Linked DNA regions of Homo sapiens: regions 2, 3 and 4 are each linked to region 1. The links come from fine-mapping of genetic effects on gene expression. A gene starts in region 1. Each other region holds a variant in brackets. All regions are shown on one strand. Distances are between the middles of the regions.

Region 1 (2,500 bases):
GGAGAAATCCCGTCTCTATCAAAAATATAAAATTAGCTGGGCGTGGTAGCGCAAGGCTGAGGCAGGAGAATCGCTTGAACCCCGGAGGCAGAGGTTGTGGTAAGCCGAGATCGGGCAACTGCACTCCAGACTGGGCGACAACAGCGAAACTCCATCTCAAAATAAATAAATAAATAAATAAATAAATAAAATAAAATAAAAAACTTTCTGGAGAGGAAGAACTGCGGAGGGTCGGATGATCCAGTGACATACATTTGGGTATGGCCCAAGTTTCTGCTTCCCCATTCGCCAGGGGCAGCACGCCTCAGCTTCTCCTTCTCCAGGGGACCAGGTTTCTCTCTACTTTTTCCTTCCCTATACCCTCCTGGGAACAGGTTCCTTTCCTGGGCTCTCGCCGAGTAACCCAAAGAAAACACAGTAGCTTCACTGATTCCGTGTGAAGAGTGGGTTAAAGCCTGTCAGAGCCTGGAGAGGGACAGGACTGGAGCCCTTCCGGGACACCTGAAGACTTCGCACAAACCCGCTTTCCTCTATCCCTGAGATTCTCAGAGGTGCCTTGCCCTACGCCCGCACCCCAGGACCAAGAACAGCAGGAGAGGAAGCTCTCGGGGCAGCTGGCGGGGTCAAAGGTCAGCACCTCGGAAGCCAGAAGGCCCCGCAGGGATGCGGGAGAGGGACGTGACCGGGACCGTGTGGTCCGAGGGACCGGCCGCTGGAAGAGCGAAGCCGTTTCTCTCTAGGCTCGGCCGCCCCCAGGCCCAGCCCTCCCCGGCATACGCAGCTTCAGCAGCCGTCCTCCCTCCCTCTCCCCTCGCGTCCTCGTCGTCCCCGCGGCCAGCGCAGGCCCCGCCCCCAGAACCGCCTCGGGGCCAAGGCCTAGTATGGCAGGACCCGCAGGGTTGGTCAGGTTCGAGGACCGGGCCGGGCCTGGCCGCCGCCGCTTACCGAGCCCGCGGCTCCTCCTCTACCACCCGCGCCGTTCCCGGGCCCGCTCGCTCTCGACGCCACCGACGCTGCCGCTGCTCCGGGCTCACGGGCGCGCTCCCGACCTCCCCGACCCTTCCCGTGTCCCCGCGCCCCGCCGGGTCCTAAAGCCCGGCGCGCAATGGGTTAGTCCACGCCCGCTTCCTGAGACCGGCTCAGACCACGATTCCCAGCAAGCATCGCAAAGACTACAACTCCCGAAAGGCATCGCGAGAAATAAATTCGCAGTGGACTTGTCTATTGAGGGCCTACTGGGTCGCAATAGCAGTTTTCCGAAACATGGCCGACTCTTTGACCTCAGCAATTTTACTTCTAGGAATACATGTATCCTCTAGAAATACTGGCGAAGTTTGGAAAGATATATTTTCCAAATGTGTATTACAACTTTGTACGTGAAAGATTGAAAACAAACTCATTCTTTCAACAAATACGTGTGTGCCTGATAAGTGCAAAGTAGCGTGTAAAGCTCTATTAACTTGGCCAGAAATCTATTTTCTTTTCTTTTCCTTTTTTTTTTTTTTGAGACAGGATCTTGCCCTTGCCCAGGCTGGAGTGCCGCAGTGGCACAATTACAGCTCAGTGCAGCCTCCACCTCCTAGGCTCAAGCAGTCCTCCTGCCTCTGCCTCTGGTAGCTGGGATTACAGGCACGTGCCACCACTCCCTGCCTCTGAGTCTTTGTTTTCTTTTTTTTTTTTTTTTTCGAGATGGTGTCTCACTCTATTGCCCAGGCTGGAGTGCAGTGGTGCGATCTCGGCTCACTGCAACCTCTGCCTCCCGGGTTCAAGAGAGTCTCCTGCCTCAGCCTCCCCAGTAGCTGGGATTACAGGAGTGTACCACCACGCCCGGCTAATTTTTGTATTTTTTAGTAGAGACAAGGTTTCACCATGTTGCCAGGCTGGTCTCAAGCTCCTGGCCTCAGGTGATCCACCCGCCTCTGCCTCCCAAAATGCTGGGATTACAGGCGTGAGCCACCGCACCCAGCCTGAGTCTCTGTTTTTTTATACACAAATGGAAGGTTTAAAAAGATGTGCTATAACAGCAAGAATACTATTAAAAAGAAAAAACAAGTAAAAAAAATAAAATAAGCCAGGCGCGGTGGCTCACACCTGTAATCCCAACACTTTGGAAGGCAAAGGCGGGTGGATCACCTGAGGTCAGGAGTTCGAGACCAGCCTGGCCAACATGGTGAAACCCCATCTCTACTAAAAATACAAAAAATGGCCGGGCGTGTTGGCAGTCCTCTGTAATCCCAGCTACTCGGGAGGCTGAGGCAGGAGAATCGCTTGAACCTGGGAGGCGAAGGTTGCAGTGAGCCAAGATCGCGCCATCGCACTCCAACCTGGGCGACAGAGCGAGACTCCGTCTCAAAACAAAAAAGAAGTGGAGAAGAGTTCTGTGGGCGGCAAGCCACCCAGGTGCCGAGTCAAGAGACCGAAGACACAAGCTGTTCCAGTATAATAAAGAAAATAATTAAAATAAGAATAGCTATATTAGAAATAGAATATAGATGTGATT
Region 2 (2,743 bases), 320 kb before region 1:
GAAACTGGGGCACCGTGAAGCATCAGATGGAAGGTTGTACTAATAACTCTCCTTCAAAGTCCTTTCCACCCCTGTGAGTCTGTGGCATGGGGTATTTTTCTTTTAAACAAAATCAAGAGAGCCAAAGACTCAGCAGGACCTAGATGCACAGGATGGGGGGACTAAAGCACAACAATGGCAACATCGCAGAGATTCCTTGTGACCCTCTTGCAGAAAGAGGAACAGCTGCCTCCTCTCAGGGCTTTGCTCTGGTTTACCCCATAGTGGGTGTCAAAGCAAGAACCTGGGGTCCTGAGGGAAGTTCAGACAAATCTGAGCTCTTACCTGTTCCCTAAACAAGTGCTTGCTGGGTTAAAGCCAGCACTGGTCCAAATCCTCAATCCAAATTGAAAACTTTGGCCCCTGACACGGGGTAGAAGACAGTGCATGCATTTAGGAGTCAATAAATTCCAATGTGAATTTTGTTATTCCTTTTTACAGAGTATGCAACCTTGGGTAAATTACTGGCCTTTTCTGTCTCTTTCTTTCTTTCTTTTTTTTTTTTTTTTTTTTTTTTTTGAGACGGAGTCTCGCTCTGCCTCCCAGGCTGGAGTGCAATGGCGAGATCTTGGCTCACTGCAACCTCCGCCTCTCAGGTTCAAGCATTTCTCCTGCCTCAGCCTCCTGAGTAGCTGGAATTACAGGTGCCCACAACCAGGCCCAGCTAATTTTTGTATTTTTAGTAGAGATGGGGTTTCACCATGTTGGTCAGACTGGTCTCGAGCTCCTGACCTCAGGTTCTCAGGTAATCCACCCACCTTGGCCTCCCAAAGTGCTGGGATTACAGGCGTGAGCCACCGCGCCCAACCTCATTACTGGACTTTTCTAAACCTCAGCTTCTTCATCTGTAAAAGGGAAATCATAATATCCTTATTTTTTTCTCTTTATTTATTTATTTATTTATTTGTTGCTGAGATGGAGTCTCGCTCTGTCGCCAAGCTGGAATGCAGTGGCACAATCTCAGCTCACTGCAACCTCTGCCTCCCGGGTTGAAGTGATTTTCCTGCCTCAGCCTCCTGAATAGCTGCAATTACAGGTATGCACTAGCACGCCTGGCTAATTTTTGTATTTTTAGTAGAGACGGGGATTCACCACGTATACCAGGCTGGTCTTGAACACCTGACCTCAGGTGATCCGCCCACTTTGGCCTCCCAAGGTGCTGGGATTACAGGCGTGAGCCACCGCCCCCGGCTTCTCTTTATTTTTTAAAAAGAGATGGCTCTGGGCATGGTGGCTCATGCCTGTAATTGCAGC[G/A]TTTTGGGAGGCTGAGGAGGGACGCCCACTTGAGACCAGCAGTTTGAGACCAGCCTGGGCAACATAGTGGGACCCTGTCTCTACAAAAAATACAAAAAAAAAAAAAGTCTTTTAAATGTCAGGTACAGTAGCTCATGCCTGTAATCCCAGCACTTTGGGAGGCTCAGGTGGGAGGATTGCTTGAGGCTAGGAGTTTAAAACTAGCCTGGGCAGGCCGGGCGGCGCGGTGGCTCACGCCTGTAATCCCAGCACTTTGGGAGGCCGAGGTGGGCAGATCACGAGGTCAGGAGATCGAGACCATCCTGGCTAACATGGTAAAACCCCGTCTCCACTAAAAATAAAAATTAGCTGGGCGTGGTGGCAGGCACCTGTAGTCCCAGCTACTCGGGAGGCTGAGGCGGGAGAATGACATGAACCTGGGAGGCGGAGCTTGCAGTGAGCTGAGATCGTACCACTGCACTCTGGCCTGGGCGACAGAGCAAGACTCCATCTCAAAATAAATAAATAAATAAATAAAACTAGCCTGGGCAACACAGCAAGATCACATCTCTAAAAAAAAAAAAAAAAAAAAAAGAAAAAGAAAAAGAAAAAAATTAGCTAGGTGTGGTTCACACACGTGTGGTCCCAGCTACTTGGGAAGCCAAGGTAGGAGGATTACATTGAGCCACGGTCACACCACTGCACTCCAGCCTGAGCAACAGAGCAAGACTCCATCTCTAAAAAGTGAGAGAGAGAAATGGGATCTCGCTCTGTTTCCCAGGCAAGTCATAGTGCACTGCAGCCTCCAACTCCTGGGCTCAAGGGATCCTCCCATCTTCCCCTCCTGAGTAACTGGGATTACAGATGTGCGCCACTGTGTCCAGCTCATAATATCCTTCCAAAAGGATTACTGCATAGATTCAATTCAATAATATATGTAAGAAGCCCAGTAGAGTACCTGGCATGTAACAGAGGCTCACTTTTAATGCCTGTTATACTTTTACAGAAAATCAAAGGGCAAAATGGAAATGTACCACAGCTTCCAGCATTAGACAGGCCTGGGTTTGAATCCTAACAACACTGGCTTTGGGCAAATCACTTCACCCACCTTGTACAGTTATTGTGAGGTGATTGAAATAATGCCTATAAATCACCTGGTATCTAGCCCATGTCTTACAGATGGCCACTGTTACAACCGACCATTTGCATCCGGGGCTACAGGGAAACCCCTCATCCCCAAGGGCAGCCTCTCTGGGGGCTAGTCCTTGGTCCCTGGACACAGGTTAGGATGGCTGGCTCTCAGGCTTCAGTGAGGCCTTTTCCAAAGGAGTGAATCGAGTCCTCACTTGGGATTTCCCATTTCCAAATATTCACCAGTTCCCCTGTCTCCAAATATTGCACAGAGGCCATCACTGATAGTGGCGTTAATGCCCAGAGGAACTGTTCCCAAAGCAGAGGGAGAATGGACACT
Region 3 (2,743 bases), 300 kb before region 1:
GGAAGCAGCTGGGAGAGGGGTCGGGGGAAGAGGGGAAGGGAGGGGACAGCTTGAGAGCTTGAGTGACTGCAGCCCTGAGGGCCTCACAGGGGATATAGGCCCTAGCCACAGGTGCACCAATTACTCTCCCCTCAAAGAAAGCCTGGGGTTCACTTCTCCCCCACCCCCGTTTTCCCACTCTGCTCAGCCCTGACCTTTCTGCAGAAGGCGGTGGCAGCTCCGCAGCACCAGTCCGCTGGCTGGTCGTTTGTCTTCAGGTTTCACAGCCTCCCTGAGGCTCCCAGTGCTTTGCAAGTTTTCCCTCCCTTTCCCAGCCACTTCCCAGTTAGCCTGGGAGCCTCTTAGTGGCAGCTCGGGTTTCATTCCTGGGAGCTTTGTTCCAAATGGAAGTTTCTGGTTGGGATAATCCCTGGGTGTGAGTGGTCAGTGCAGGAAGAGTCAGGAGCCTCTCTGGGAGGCAGTGGGAACAACCCCACTAGTCCAGGTGCTCTGAGAGGGAGCAGAGCTGGGCTCCTTGTCCTGGAAGCACCTTCCCATCGAGGCCCAGGGGCTGACCCTGGGCAGCCGGCCTGGAGCCCACCCATCTCTTCTCTGGTAGGTCCTGGCTATCATCCTCTCCTGGATGCCCAAGAGAGTTCTGAAGGGTTCAGACCCTTCATCTCCTTTACCACCTGCTGCAGTTGAGATACCAGGCACAAGAAGCTGAAGGGACCCCAATCCCTGAGGCATCCAAAGCAAATATTGTTTAAGTCTATTTTATAAAACAGGCTTCCATACAGGTTTTGCTCAGGAAAAAAGTTTCTGTTGCTAAAAAAAATTTTTAAGCAAATAATCTAATTCAAACCTTTTACTTTCCAGATGAGGAAATTAAGGTTCAGAAAAGACAAGTTTCCCGGAGGATCCTACAGCAATTCCATTCTCGTCTGTCTTCTCTGTGAAGGCGCTTGTGAGCCACGCAAGCACAGTGCCTGGTGCTAACCCACGTGTTACCTGCGCCATGTTGTGTAGTAGACTCAGGTTCACTACTCTGGGAAGCCCAATACATGGGCCAGCCTGAAGGCAGGGACCTTGCCACATCCACCCTGCTCTCTCCAGTAATTCAATACTCAGTGTGCATGGAATTCAACTGGGACTGAGCCAAGTGGAGCTGAACTCCAGCAGAACCAGCCCAGGGTCCTGTCTTCCACCAGTTTTCAGCTGCCTAAAAACCAGCCATGGCCAGCACACTCAGCATTCCTGCCCCCATCCCCTAAACCCCAGCGTCTTCACACAAACCCTGCTCTTCCTGTCTCAGCCTTCCCCACTCCTCATCAGGAAGGCCTGTCTAACCATGGCCATCTGCTACATGGGAGGCCTTAGGAGTCAGGGATCTATCCAACCTGTGCACCATTGCTTCCCAACACTCTACTGCCTGGCATGTAGGAAGTGCTCAGTAAACCCTTCGTGAATCAACGCAAGGCACTAGGGAAAGGAAAGCCTTCGCATTTGGCTAGAGGAAAGGTCAGAGCCTTGAATGTCAGCTGTGTTCTCAGTGCTTCTCTCTTGTTCTGTTTTTCCCAACTCCAGCAACTCAGGCTTGACTTTTCGCCAATTTGCCTGGGCTTATTTGGAGTGAGAGGGG[T/C]GGGAGGCAAAGCCAGGCCTGAGGGACAGAGAGGCAAGAACGTGCACACTGGCCCCCGGGATAAGCAGGGAAACCATCCCCTTGCAGCCACCACATCATCCGTCCATCTCAGTTCTCCCAGGCCTTCAGGGGCCGGGGCCTTTGGCAGCCACACCTGCTTGGATGAGTGGAAGGGATGGGGAGAGGCCAGCCAGTCTCGGTGTGCATGAGGGACCTTGCCCAGCCTCTTTCCCAGCCTCCTGGCTGCCTTAGGCCCTCGGCTGCCAGAGCTGTTTCCCCAGGGAAGCAGCCTCCTTACAGACTCTGCTCCTCGGTGGCTCTCTGATGATGCCACTGTGCAAACCTGGGCTCCCAGGGACTTGGCTCAGGTGGCCCACCCCGTCTCCCAGATTCCTTCCCGGCAGTAGCCACCATCACTGTTAGGAAGCATTGTTAAGGTACCCGCTGGACACTCGACACACTCATTTTAACTCAGTCCTGGCAACTCCTATGGTGGAGTGATTCCCTGTTGTGCAGGTGAGGAAGTGGGGGCTGGGAGAGGTGAGCTGACTTGCCCCGATTAAATGACCAGGCAGTGACAGAGCCAGGGTTCAAGCTCAGGGCTGCTGGACTCCAAAGCCCTTGCCCCTCACCCTCACACCAAGCCACTTCTGATTTCTGGCTGTCCCTGTGGCCATTCCTCTGACTTCCTTCTCTGACTCTGCTGAGGCCTGGAGGATGCCACAGCAGTGTCAGAGCAAATGCCAGGGGTGGGGGGGAGTGAAAACAAGGAAAATCCCCTTTGCTTTCCATTCCCTCTGTCTACCTACCCCGCTGGTCTGATGAAAGTGCCCAGATGGGGGCCTGCTTCCTGGGGCCGGGTTCTTGCACAGGGCCTGCCACCGATACCAGACTCTCTCATCCCTCACACACTCGTACACACTCATACCAGGGTTGCCCAGGCCAAAATAGCAACTTTAAACACCACCTGCTTAGGCTCTGACCGCCCCCCACACTCAGCACAAAGCTGTGGCTTTAGCCATTTGGTCACTCGGCTCACCTTGTCGTCAAGCTCTTTTTCCCAGAGCCCCATCTACCCATCACACCTCATTTAAGGACACCCCTAGCAGCCACCCTCCCTCC
Region 4 (2,743 bases), 86 kb before region 1:
TTAAAAGTAAAACAAGCTTCCAACGAAAGGCTCTCAATTGCCAGTCTTGAGATGTACCTAACCAAGAAGTCATAGGCCTCTGCCAGTAATAGGAGAGCCAGCTGGATCCAGAACGCTGTGATACTCCCTGGGTTTTCCATTTTTCCCAGTAGATATCTAAAAGGTCAGGCCATGTACAATTTCTTTTTCACAAAGCTGTGAATGCTTTGGATGTTACTTAGCACAGTGAAGCTGAACAGATTGTTCTGGGGGCTTAGGGGGCCTTTCTTCCTGCAGGCAAGCAAATGTTGCTTAGTGATCTGTGTCTGAGCATAGGAGTCAGGAACTCTAAGTTCTAATCATGACTCTGTTTAGCGTCTGGTTCCATGATCCTTAGCAAGTCACTTAACCCTTCTATATCTCTACTCCCTTCCCCAACAAATGGGGATAAAAATAACGACTTATCACCGGGATGTGGCAGAGTGAGAGGGTAACAACTGTGATCCATAGATAAATGTTGAATATAAAATGTCAGTATAAATCTGCCTTTAAAACAACCCATGTTTTCAGACGATGGAAAGTCATACTATTTAAATGCAGCCTGCCTCTCCAATGCCCCTTCTTCCTGCAGTGGAAGTAAAATAAGCTGACTCCATGAAGCTCTGTTCAAGTATTTCTCTCTCCAACAACTACACACTTCTCTCTGCACATCCTGCTCAATCTTTGCTTAATGGCTTAGAAACCATCAAAGTTTCCATTTTTACTTGGTTAAAAGCAATCCATGCACCTGTGGGTAAGGAAGAATGAGAAAAACAAAAGAAATTACTAACTACTCTCTCTCACATCAACAAATCAAATAAACTAAGGTGGATGGCTGGCCCTATCAAAGGTGATGATGTCAGCTCAACAGAAACATTAACAACATCCTACTGGGTTCTATTATTATTATTATTCGGCTCAAACACAACATTGTGCTGCTTTTGGAGAATGTTGATCCATCATTAATGAAAATCTTACATATCCATTCATCCATTTATTTGTTCATCCAAATGTTATCTGAGTTCCTATTAAAAAGCTAAGTAGGCCGGGTGCTGTGGCACATGCCTATAATCCCAACAATTTGGGAGGCCAAAGCAGGCAGATCACTTGAGTCCAGGACTTCAAGACCAGCCTGGGCAACATGATGAAACCCCATCTCTAAAAAAAAAAATACAAAAATAAGCCAGGCATGGTAGTACGCATCTGTAGTCCCAGCTACTTGGGCGGCTGAGGTGGGAGGATCCATTGGGCCCAGGAGGTCGCGACTACAATGAGCCATGATTGTGCCGCTGCACTCCAGCCTGGGCAAGACCCTGTCTCAAAAAATAAATAAATAGCCAAGCAGTCTGCTGGAGATGTAACAATGATTAAAAAACAGGCCCTGCCCTCCAGGAACTTTTTTGAGAGGAAATATAGATATTTAAACAAATCATTGTAAAAACATATGAAATTAGCTGGGGCATGGTGGCTTGCATCTATGGTCCCACCTGCTCAGGAGGCTGAGTTGGGAGGATCACTTGAGCCCAGGAGACAGAGGTTGCAGTGAGCTGAGACTGTGGCACTGCACTCCAGCCTGGGCAACAGAGTGAGACCGTCTC[C/CA]AAAAAAAAAAAAAAAAAAAAAAGCAAACATAGCAAAACAATGTGATACACTAAAATAGGGGCCCAATATGCTATAGAAAACACTCCAAAAATAAGACATAGTGAACAAAATGGTCTATAGCCTCAAGAAGTGCAAAGGAGATTGCTAACCTAAAGTTCCCAGTAGGAGCGCAGTGTGACTAGTAAATAAAGAAAAAATACTGGCCGGGCGCAGTGGCTCACACCTGTAATCCCAGCACTTTGGGAGACAGAGGAGGGCAGATCACCTAAGGTCAGAAATTTGAGGCCAGCTTGGCCAACATGGTAAAACTCCATCTTTACAAAAGTTAGCCAGGCATAATGGTGTGTGCCTTTAAGTCCCAGCTACTTGGGGCAGGAGCTGAGGTGGGAGGATTGTTTGAACCCGCAATCACACCACTGCTCTCCAGCTTAGGCAACAGAGTGAGACTCTTTCTCAAAAAAATAAAATAAAATAAAATAAAATAATTTACCTAGATACTAAGATTTCTGTGAGAACAGGATTAATTGGGAGGCTGTGGAACTTAAAATTAAGACAGAGGTTTTTGACACAAGGGGCTTCAGAGGATCCAGAAACTCTGTGAAACTATATGCAAAATATATATGTGCAAATGGACATTTTTTCTGAATACAAAGATGACTGTAGCTTTCATTCTATTCTCAAAAGTAAAGAACTATTTCAGTATGATCTTATCCCAAAACCCAGTTTTCTACCTCTATCAGTGGAGAGTTTTAAGATCTAATCTTTTACTCAGACTGGGAGATCTGGGTTGCCTAGACATCAGAGAAGAGCTTTCAAACTTTCTATATGTGGTGAAAAACAGTGATTGCTGAAAACAGAGCAATGCAGAGCAATAGAACTTTTTCCTTTCCATATTCTAGTTAAAATTAGCCTAAATATATTTTCATACATACTCAGATATCATGGTGACATGCATCATAGAAACAGACAGTGGCAGCAGGGAGTAGATCAGGGCTCGTATCTGTAAAACCAACTAGGAAAAGCTTATCAGGCAAGATTGAACCCCCAACTAATACAGCTGACTCCTCCTTGTCCATAAGATCACACCTGTAAATTCATTATGGGAATCTGGAGACCTCTGGCTACC

Direction of the effects. Alleles are on the strand shown, and positions count from the first base shown. SD is a standard deviation of normalised expression in the study named. Not every link is listed here.
With allele C in place of CA in region 4, the expression in subcutaneous fat of the gene that starts at base 1,034 in region 1 is lower (moderate effect, 0.48 SD a copy in TwinsUK).

The links. PIP is the estimated chance that this variant, and not a neighbour inherited with it, causes the effect.
Region 2: its variant is fine-mapped to the expression of ARMH3 in whole blood (TOPMed, PIP above 0.99).
Region 3: its variant is fine-mapped to the expression of ARMH3 in whole blood (TOPMed, PIP above 0.99).
Region 4: its variant is fine-mapped to the expression of ARMH3 in subcutaneous fat (TwinsUK, PIP 0.90).

Annotation. Positions count from the first base shown.
Region 1 is chr10:102,055,140-102,057,639 of GRCh38, forward strand. It overlaps ARMH3 (armadillo like helical domain containing 3), which reads right to left and starts at 1,034. Exons shown (of 26, transcript NM_024541.3): 1 at 946-1,034. RefSeq lists a silencer at 734-1,123.
Region 2 is chr10:101,736,654-101,739,396 of GRCh38, forward strand. All of the region lies in intron 3 of LOC105378458 (a long non-coding RNA gene), which reads right to left. Among named protein-coding and RNA genes, the nearest start is that of LINC03046, 7.9 kb to the left of the region's middle. The variant G/A (reference allele first, on the strand shown) is at 1,294.
Region 3 is chr10:101,759,553-101,762,295 of GRCh38, forward strand. All of the region lies in intron 2 of LOC105378458 (a long non-coding RNA gene), which reads right to left. Among named protein-coding and RNA genes, the nearest start is that of FGF8, 15 kb to the right of the region's middle. The variant T/C (reference allele first, on the strand shown) is at 1,622.
Region 4 is chr10:101,969,479-101,972,221 of GRCh38, forward strand. All of the region lies in intron 20 of ARMH3 (armadillo like helical domain containing 3), which reads right to left. Among named protein-coding and RNA genes, the nearest start is that of ARMH3, 85 kb to the right of the region's middle. The variant C/CA (reference allele first, on the strand shown) is at 1,617.